Linked DNA regions of Homo sapiens: region 2 is linked to region 1. The links come from fine-mapping of genetic effects on gene expression. A gene starts in region 1. The other region holds a variant in brackets. All regions are shown on one strand. Distances are between the middles of the regions.

Region 1 (4,000 bases):
TTTCGCTTTATCAGAAAGCAATAAACCCATCTAATTTCCTAAATCTTCAGCCACAGAAAGCGTGGAAAGATGGTTTGCTCATTTTAGCAGTTTTCAACCACACAACCCTAACTCTTTTAAAGTTTAATTACTGGTTTACCCCTGCCAAAATAAACATGGCCTCCTGCAGGTTTGCTACATTTCAAACTGCACCTAGAATCTCCTCGTTCCTATGTAACGTTCAAGTTAATGAAGTATTATGGGTTGTATGAGAAAAATTAAAACGGTAATAGTCAAGGGTTCAGAAAGCCTAGAATTTTAGAAAATCCCTCACTCCTTTCCAAGATATTTGATTCTTTTTCATGGGAATACACTTCTATCATCCTATATACTCTCTGGGTACATCATTCTCACCAACAGTCATTAAAATAACTGAATCACAATATCTTTCAAATCTTGGGGGAAAACCTCTGTTTTCCTTCATATTAATTTGTAAATCAAATTGCATCTCACCAGAGTCACTGGATAAGAAAGGAATTGAAGAATATCATTAAAAGCACACTTTAAAGGACTGATTTGTGTTTTGTGAATTAAATTTCATGATTCGTTCAAGCAAACATTAATAAAAGTCAAATGGAAAGACACTCCAGCATGGTTTTCATCACAATGTAAAGTCTTTCCTCAAAATATAAATGAAACTATGTGACTATGAATTCACAAACACTCATTTTGCTAAATGTACCACATAAAAAATTTTCCACCCAATGCAACAGAATCAGCCAGCCACTCGAAGCCACTTACACCCACTTTGCCTTCTGGACTATACATTTGGTACTTGGGTGTATTTATTTATTTAGGCTCCTTAAAAAAGCCTTCTTTATCATTTGCATATTTGATAGAAACTAAAGATACACCACCTATGAACGCAGGCAAACAGCCCTATACCTGTGTTATGACAAGTTTTGCTACAATAAAGCACAAGGAAACTTCTCGACACACACCCAGTTCCCCCGGCCTCCTGCACTCCACTTACCTAGAAAGAGGATCGTGCCCAGAACTAGGGTGCCACCGACAAACACGACCAGGGCAATTCGAGTGCCTCTGTTGGCCTTCTTTCCAGTCTCCACGCTGCTCCCTGTTTCTGCTTCCATCAGAAGGGCCGTAGAGAGCACACGAGAAGAAAGTCACTTTTCGTGGTTTGGTGGCTGGTCTCAAGAGCGAGGCGTTGACATCCAAGGCTTTCTTGCTCTTCTACTAATGGACAGCTTAAGAAACTGCCGTCAGGAAATCTCCCCTCGCCACCCTTTCTCAAATAATTCTTCACAAATGAAAATTATAAAAACCAAAATATTGGTTGCCTTGGCTTTCCCCCTGACTAGACAAAACAAACAGTGTTGCTTTATCTTGGTGCTCTCCCTCAGCAAAGTCCCTGTTTGGCAGGCTCTTCTCTCAAGCGTTCCGAGTATATATGTTTTACTATGTTGCTGAACAGATGTTTTAGCTATTTAAATGTATAGTCACTTGGGGAGGAAAAAAACAATTGTTTTATCAAAACTGGATTCTCGTGAAACTCCCCCAAATCATGATAAGTTAGGTGGCCAGGATTCACCGGACCCACTTCAAGATCTCAATTAATCATGTAATTCTGTTGCAAGAATCATTCTGCTTGCCTGAATTGTCTTCATCAAAGATATTCTTTCAGTGTGTGAGTCCCTTTTTAAAGCCTTCTAAGAGTTCCTAGGATATCCTGGAGCATTTTATTTCAGGAACTTTGTGTATGATAGCATGTGCCAAAAATCAGTCATAGTCCAGTGCAGTGCAAAGTAGCAATTAAGACAACCTACAGAGGCTGATGGTTTGAACTGGAACTTTTTCTTAAAGGAAGGAGAAAAAGCACTTCCTCTTTGTGGTACTAAGAAGTGTACAAAAAAAAAAACCCACAAAAAAACACAAGTGCGTGAATTAAGTTTATTAGCAACTACAAAAGATATGATGAAAAATTTTTTCCTTGTGTGTTTTTGATGAAAAGTGCACCATGTGTTTTGTCTGCCACTCCTACTGAGGCAGCCATTCATTAGGATGTTTTTGTGTTTACATAAACTGTCCACTTCAGCAGATTCCCCAGGATGAATTCAAAGGCAATTGGTTTCAGGCCGGGCGTAGTGGCCCACGCCTGTAATCCCAGCACTTTGGGAGGCTGAGGCAGGGGGCTCGCTTGAGGCCAGGAGTTCGAGACCAGCCTGGCCAACAAGGCGAAACCTTGTTTGTACTAAAAACACAAAAATTAGCCGGGCATGTTGGTGAGCACCTGTATTCCCAGCTACTCAGGAGGCAGAGGTGGGAGAATCGCTTGAGCCTGGGAGGTGGAGGTTGCAGTGAGCCAGATCGCGCCACTGCACTCTAACCTGGGTGACAGAGAGAGAGACCCTGTCTCAAAAATAAACAAACAAAAAACAAAGGCAGTTGACTTCACTGGAAAGACTGATGAATGACTGGGTCTTTGATATTTTTGATTATGATAATGATTTAAACGATAACAATGTGCTTTCTTCATGGGGAAGGGCAACTGATATTCCAATGCTACCACTGAAATGATATAGATTTTATTATCCAAAGATATAGATATCGTTAACTCACAACACAATTACTACCTACCTGCTTTTGTTTTGCTGGAGGTCATAGGGCAGTGGGAGTGGGGGTGGAGAATTCAACTATATCTAGAAACCAGTAGAGCAATTATCTCAATGCAAAACTTGTGCGCATGGCTTTAGAGGTGACACAGGAGCTCAGCAGGTGCTGATGAGCTCAGTATAACATGGCCACACATTCATGGTCCTGTCTGGCTTGTCTTGGTCAGGGCTTAAGCCCTTAGCATGGGATTCTCTCAAGTTTTGGGGCTTATTCCATAATATACCTTACTTTCTGCTCATTTCATGTTGCGCCAAAGTCAGGGGGTCACAAGCCTTTGTCCAAGTTATGACATCATGGTGTGTTGTAGTTATCCTGTGCTCATTGGCTGTTGACATTATTTTGTTGCTGTTATTCCATAACACACCCTAGCAGGACTTTGGCCCCTAGTATGGGATTCTCCCAAGAGTTTTTGGACCTCACTCTAGAACACATCTTAGACCATGAGTTCCACAAAGTCAGGAACCATGTTCAATGTTGCAGCTCCAACATCGACATTTCCTGGCCCTTCACAGTGAAAAGGAGAGCAATAAAAATCATACAAGTTAGCCCTAGCCACTTACTCTTAACAACCAGCTTCAGCTGGGCGCAGTGGCTCACGCCTGTAATCCCAGTACTTTGGGAGGCCAAGGCGGGTGGATCACGAGGTCAGGAGTTCGAGACCAGCCTGGCCAACATGGTGAAACCCTGTCTCTACTAAAAATACAAAAAATAGCCGGGCGTGGTAGCAGGCGCCTGTAATCCCAGCTACTCAGGAGACTGAGGCAGGAGAGTTGCTTGAACTCAGGAGGCGGGTTGCAGCGAGCTGAGATCATGCCACTGAACTCTAGTCTGGGCGGCAGAGCAAGACTGTCTGGAAAAAAACAAATACAAAACAAAACAAAACAAAAAACCAACTTCGGGGCCAGAAGTGGTGGCTCACACCTGTAATCCCAACACTTTGGGAGGCTGAGGTGGGCAGATCACTCTAAGTCAGGAGTTCGAGATCTGCCTGGCCAATGTGGCGAAACCCTGTCTCTACTAAAAATACAAAAATTAGCCAGGTGTGGTGGCACGTGACTGTAATCCCAGCTACTCGGGGAAGCTGAGGCACAAAAATCGCTTGGACCTGGGAAGTGGAGGCTGCAGTGAGCTGAGATTGAGCCACTGCACTCCAGCCTGGGTGACAGAATGAAACTGTGTCTCAAAAAAACCAAAAGGCCAAGGTGGGTGGATCACCTGAGGTCAGGAGTTCGAGATCAGCCTGGCCAACATGGCGAAACCCCGACTCTACTGAAAGTACAAAAATTAGCCGGAGGTGGTGGTGGATGCCTGTAATGCCAGCTACTCGGGA
Region 2 (4,000 bases), 66 kb before region 1:
AATAAGAAAAACCTGGCAGTTCCTAAAGTTGTTTTATCCGTGCAATTTTTCTACCACTCTCAAGGTGGTCTTGTGTCTTCTCAATACAGTTACTTTAGTTTATTGCCAGAAAGTGACTTAATGGTTAAAAAGGAACCAGGAAAAAAAAAAAAAAGCAGCAAAAGATTGAGAATGAACTGGGGAAAAAAAAAGATGTTCACACAGACATTTTAGAAAATAACATCATTATATGACTAGCTCCCCAAGCTCATAAACAATTTAGGATCTCAAAGAGAACAGCATGGAGAAAGACCAGAAATAAAGGGCAAAAACATTTGTTATCATTGCAGCAAGTAAATTACACCAGACAGTGCTTTTGGCCAGTTCATCACAAAGGACACCGGGATTTTCCCTATGACTCTTTTGATGTAACATTCTTTAAAAACAGTTTTCAAAGGATGTGAGAAGGGAAGCCCTTATAATTTAAAGAAAACACAAAAGTCACAGTAAAATTCATGTGAAAGTTCTTACTTCTTTCTCTCAGACCCTAATATCCTAAACAAATCTTTAAAGTACTGCGGGACGCGGACCACCACATTCTCGGAGGGGCTGATGTCTTTCAGATGGGGGTAGAGTCTGGTGTCAATGACCTTCTTGATGTAGCCCAGCCAGTCGAACTGAGGGGAGAGAGAACAAAACAGAATGAGAGAATCTCGGTTAGGTAGCAAGTAAGAAAGGCAGATAGAGTAGATTGAGCATCATTCATTTCTTTTGATTTCACACCTAATAATTCAAGATGCAACTACTCAAGTCTAGAAAATAAACTCCTGATCATTGCCATCCAGACCTATTGTCTTTTTTTTTTTTTTTTTTTTTTTTTTTTTTTTGAGACATTCTCGCTCTATCACCCAGGCTGGAGTGCAGTGGCATGATCTTGGCTCACTGTTACCTCTGCCTCCTGGGTTCAAGCAATTTTCCTGCCTCAGCCTCCTGAGTAGCTGGGATTACAGGCACCTGCCACCACACTTGGCTAATTTTTTTTTTTTTTTTGTATTTTTAGTAGAGGTGGAATTTCACCATGTTGGCCAGGCTGGTCTCGAACTCCTGACTTCAAGTGATCCACCCACCTTGGCCTCCCAATGTGCTGGGATTACAGGTATGAGCCACCATGCTCGGCCTGACCTATTGTCTTAATCACAAATGGAGCATGTGTTCTGTACCATCTACATCTGGACGACACCCACACACACACTAACACAGTAATATGCACCCTCACTCCCTTGGCCCCCTCCAGTACTCTTCCTCCTTCCTGAACTCTCCCCTCTGTCTTTCTCTCCCCATTCTGCTCTCTCCCTGTCCAGTACTCTTCCTCTATTCTATACTCTTTCTTCCTCCCATACTCTTCCCTCCTTCTCTCCTGCATTTCTCTTCCTCCTTCTAAATTCTTCCTCTATACGGTACATTTTCTCTCTCCCTCCCTCCCTTTCTCTGTCCTGTACTCTCCCTCACTCTCACATACACACAGAAACAGATGCCCCAGTACATAATTTGTCTCTGTGACACAGTTTTTAAAAAAAAAAAAAAAAAAACACAAGAGGAAATAAGCAGCAACAGAAAGTAAATGCAGCCAGGCATGGTAGCTCA[C/T]ACCTGTAATCCCAGCACTTTGGGAGGCCGAGGCAGGTGGATCATTTGAGGTCAGGAGTTTGAGACCAGCCTGGCCAATCCCATCTCTATCAAAAATACAAAAATTAGCTAGGTGTGGTGGCCGGCACCTGTAATCCCAGCTACTCGAGAGGCTAAGGCAGGAGAATCACTTGAACCCGGGAGGCAGAGGTTGCAATGAGCCAAGATCACACCACTGCACCCCAGCCTGGATGACACAGCAAGACTGTGTCTCAAAAAAAAACAAATAAAAACACAGAAAGTAACATGCCTCCATTCTTCAGAGCATCCCTATCCTACCTAAAACACCATATGGTGTTTTTTAGATTGGCTACTCTAAAAGTCTTTTCCCAACCTTTTCTTCCTTGCCTGTGTCCACTGTTGAAACGGAAAACCAGTTACTCACTTGCCCAACCTCCCCTGTGGTTAGGAGTGGCCATGTGACCCAATCCTACTCAATAAGAAATAAAGGGAAGACATCTGGAGATGTTCTGGAAAGGCTTGTTTGTTTTTCCTAGTAAAAGAGTTAGACACATCACTGGCCCTTTCACCTTCTTCCTGCTCTGACAGCAGATGTGATATATGGAGCTGTGATGGATACCTTGGAACCATGAGTCATCAAACATGAAGTCAAAAAGCCAACACACTAAACACAGTAGGATGGAAAGATAGAAAGAACTTGGGCCTTTGACAACACTGTTAAACAGCTGAGCCAATGCCAACAATTACCTATGTCTAGACTTTTGTCATGTGAGAATATAGGCTTTAAGTTTCTAAGCCACTGTTGGAAAGATGTTTTGTTCCCTGTAACAGAAGGCATCCCAATACACAGACAAGGGATATTTTATGTGATTGTTGACAAAGATGATGATAACCAAGACTGAGAGCAGGTTTTACAAGACACAAATTTACACAGAGATGAAATCCAATCCCTTCTAAAATGATGAGTTGAGAGAAAGTTTTCTGGATAGTTTTCACCAACCTGGGGAATCATAGCACTCAGTTCAGAAATGTTCATTTTGTTGTACATGGCCTCGCTGGTTCGGTTTTCATGTGGAATCATTATCTGTTGAAAAGAGATTTTTGTTATTTTTTTTCAAGTGAACCATTTCTTACTGTATGATTACTTCCTACATGTGCCAAAACATCTGCATAGTATTATAAAGTTTTTCAAGGCTTTGGTGTGGTCCCCAACTCGGGGAAGAGAAAAAAAGACATCACTTTAGGCAGGATTAAGAAAATAAACTTTCATATCCTCCTCTGTGTGAAATATTGTCCCCAGTACAAAAAGAACTACCCCAAATCTCCCTCCCAATCTATAATGTGGATGGGCAAAATCTATTGCTGGCTCAATTTTGACAATCAAACTTAAGTTGGACATTGAGGTAAACATCCCATTGTCACCTGTGGTCTCCAGATAATGATTTCAATATTTCATGAACCACAGACCATCCCTTCACCTCTAGGGGCAAATTTTCACTGATGAACACAAGACTATCTGGATGCCACTGTTCCCCGTGATCATTTTGTCAACAGCTCATTCCCTCATTTCCCCTCTTGTCTCTTTGGCCTTGAGATTTCCCTAGCCCCATTGCTGGGGGTATGGATTTAGTCACCGCCTGGACACACATTTCAAAACTTGCCTCTCTCTAGCCCTGGCTCTATACTCTTTCAATTCCTAATACTCATGCTCTTGGCCATTTGGCCAACACCAAATCTGAGCTTCTAGCCTCCACTATGTTTAACCTAAGAACAGCAGCAATGATTATCTTCCTCAAGGATCATCTTAATCACTTCCATTGACCAGCAGTAGCTCACATATCCACCCCTCAATCACGTCATGACTTTGCCTTCGGGCCTTCCATCATCTAATTCCCTTGCATTAAACTTGCCACCTTCCCACTGCACACATGACTCTCCGACTCTTGCATCTCCTATCCACCATCACCACCTCCATGGTTTGAACTATGACTCAGGACTGCCCAAGACTCACTGCATCTAGCAAGCCTTTCCAATTACACTCCACTTGGTTCCAATCACAAGGGCTACTCCATCAATAAAACCTCTCCTTGTGCACACATCTCTCTAGCTGGATTGGTTAAGTATATGCTTCCCTGGTTGTAATTACAAGGACGTATTTGGCTGGGCTGGACTGTCTTGTCTTCCCAGCTTCAGAAGTTTCCATAGGACTATGTATCCCACTAATTTTAAAAGTACCTAGTGATGTGTAGTGTAAGATATGGAAGTGAGCATTACTAGCAGTGATTTTTCAAGGTAAAAATTACAGAGGGCTGACTGGCAGACGTCTGGCCCCTCTTTGCTAAATGCTTCAGTGTCCTTAGCTTCCCTTTCTTCACCC

The links. PIP is the estimated chance that this variant, and not a neighbour inherited with it, causes the effect. A credible set is the group of variants that fine-mapping cannot tell apart.
Region 2: its variant is the best candidate, but not a certain one, in a credible set for the expression of PHEX in esophagus muscle (GTEx, PIP 0.85).

The regions. Positions count from the first base shown.
Region 1 is chrX:22,030,136-22,034,135 of GRCh38, reverse strand. It overlaps PHEX (phosphate regulating endopeptidase X-linked), which reads right to left and starts at 1,811. Exons shown (of 22, transcript NM_000444.6): 1 at 1,013-1,811. The coding sequence starts at 1,130.
Region 2 is chrX:22,095,662-22,099,661 of GRCh38, reverse strand. It overlaps PHEX (phosphate regulating endopeptidase X-linked), which reads right to left. Exons shown (of 22, transcript NM_000444.6): 8 at 2,624-2,707; 9 at 511-656. Among named protein-coding and RNA genes, the nearest start is that of PHEX, 65 kb to the right of the region's middle. The variant C/T (reference allele first, on the strand shown) is at 1,624.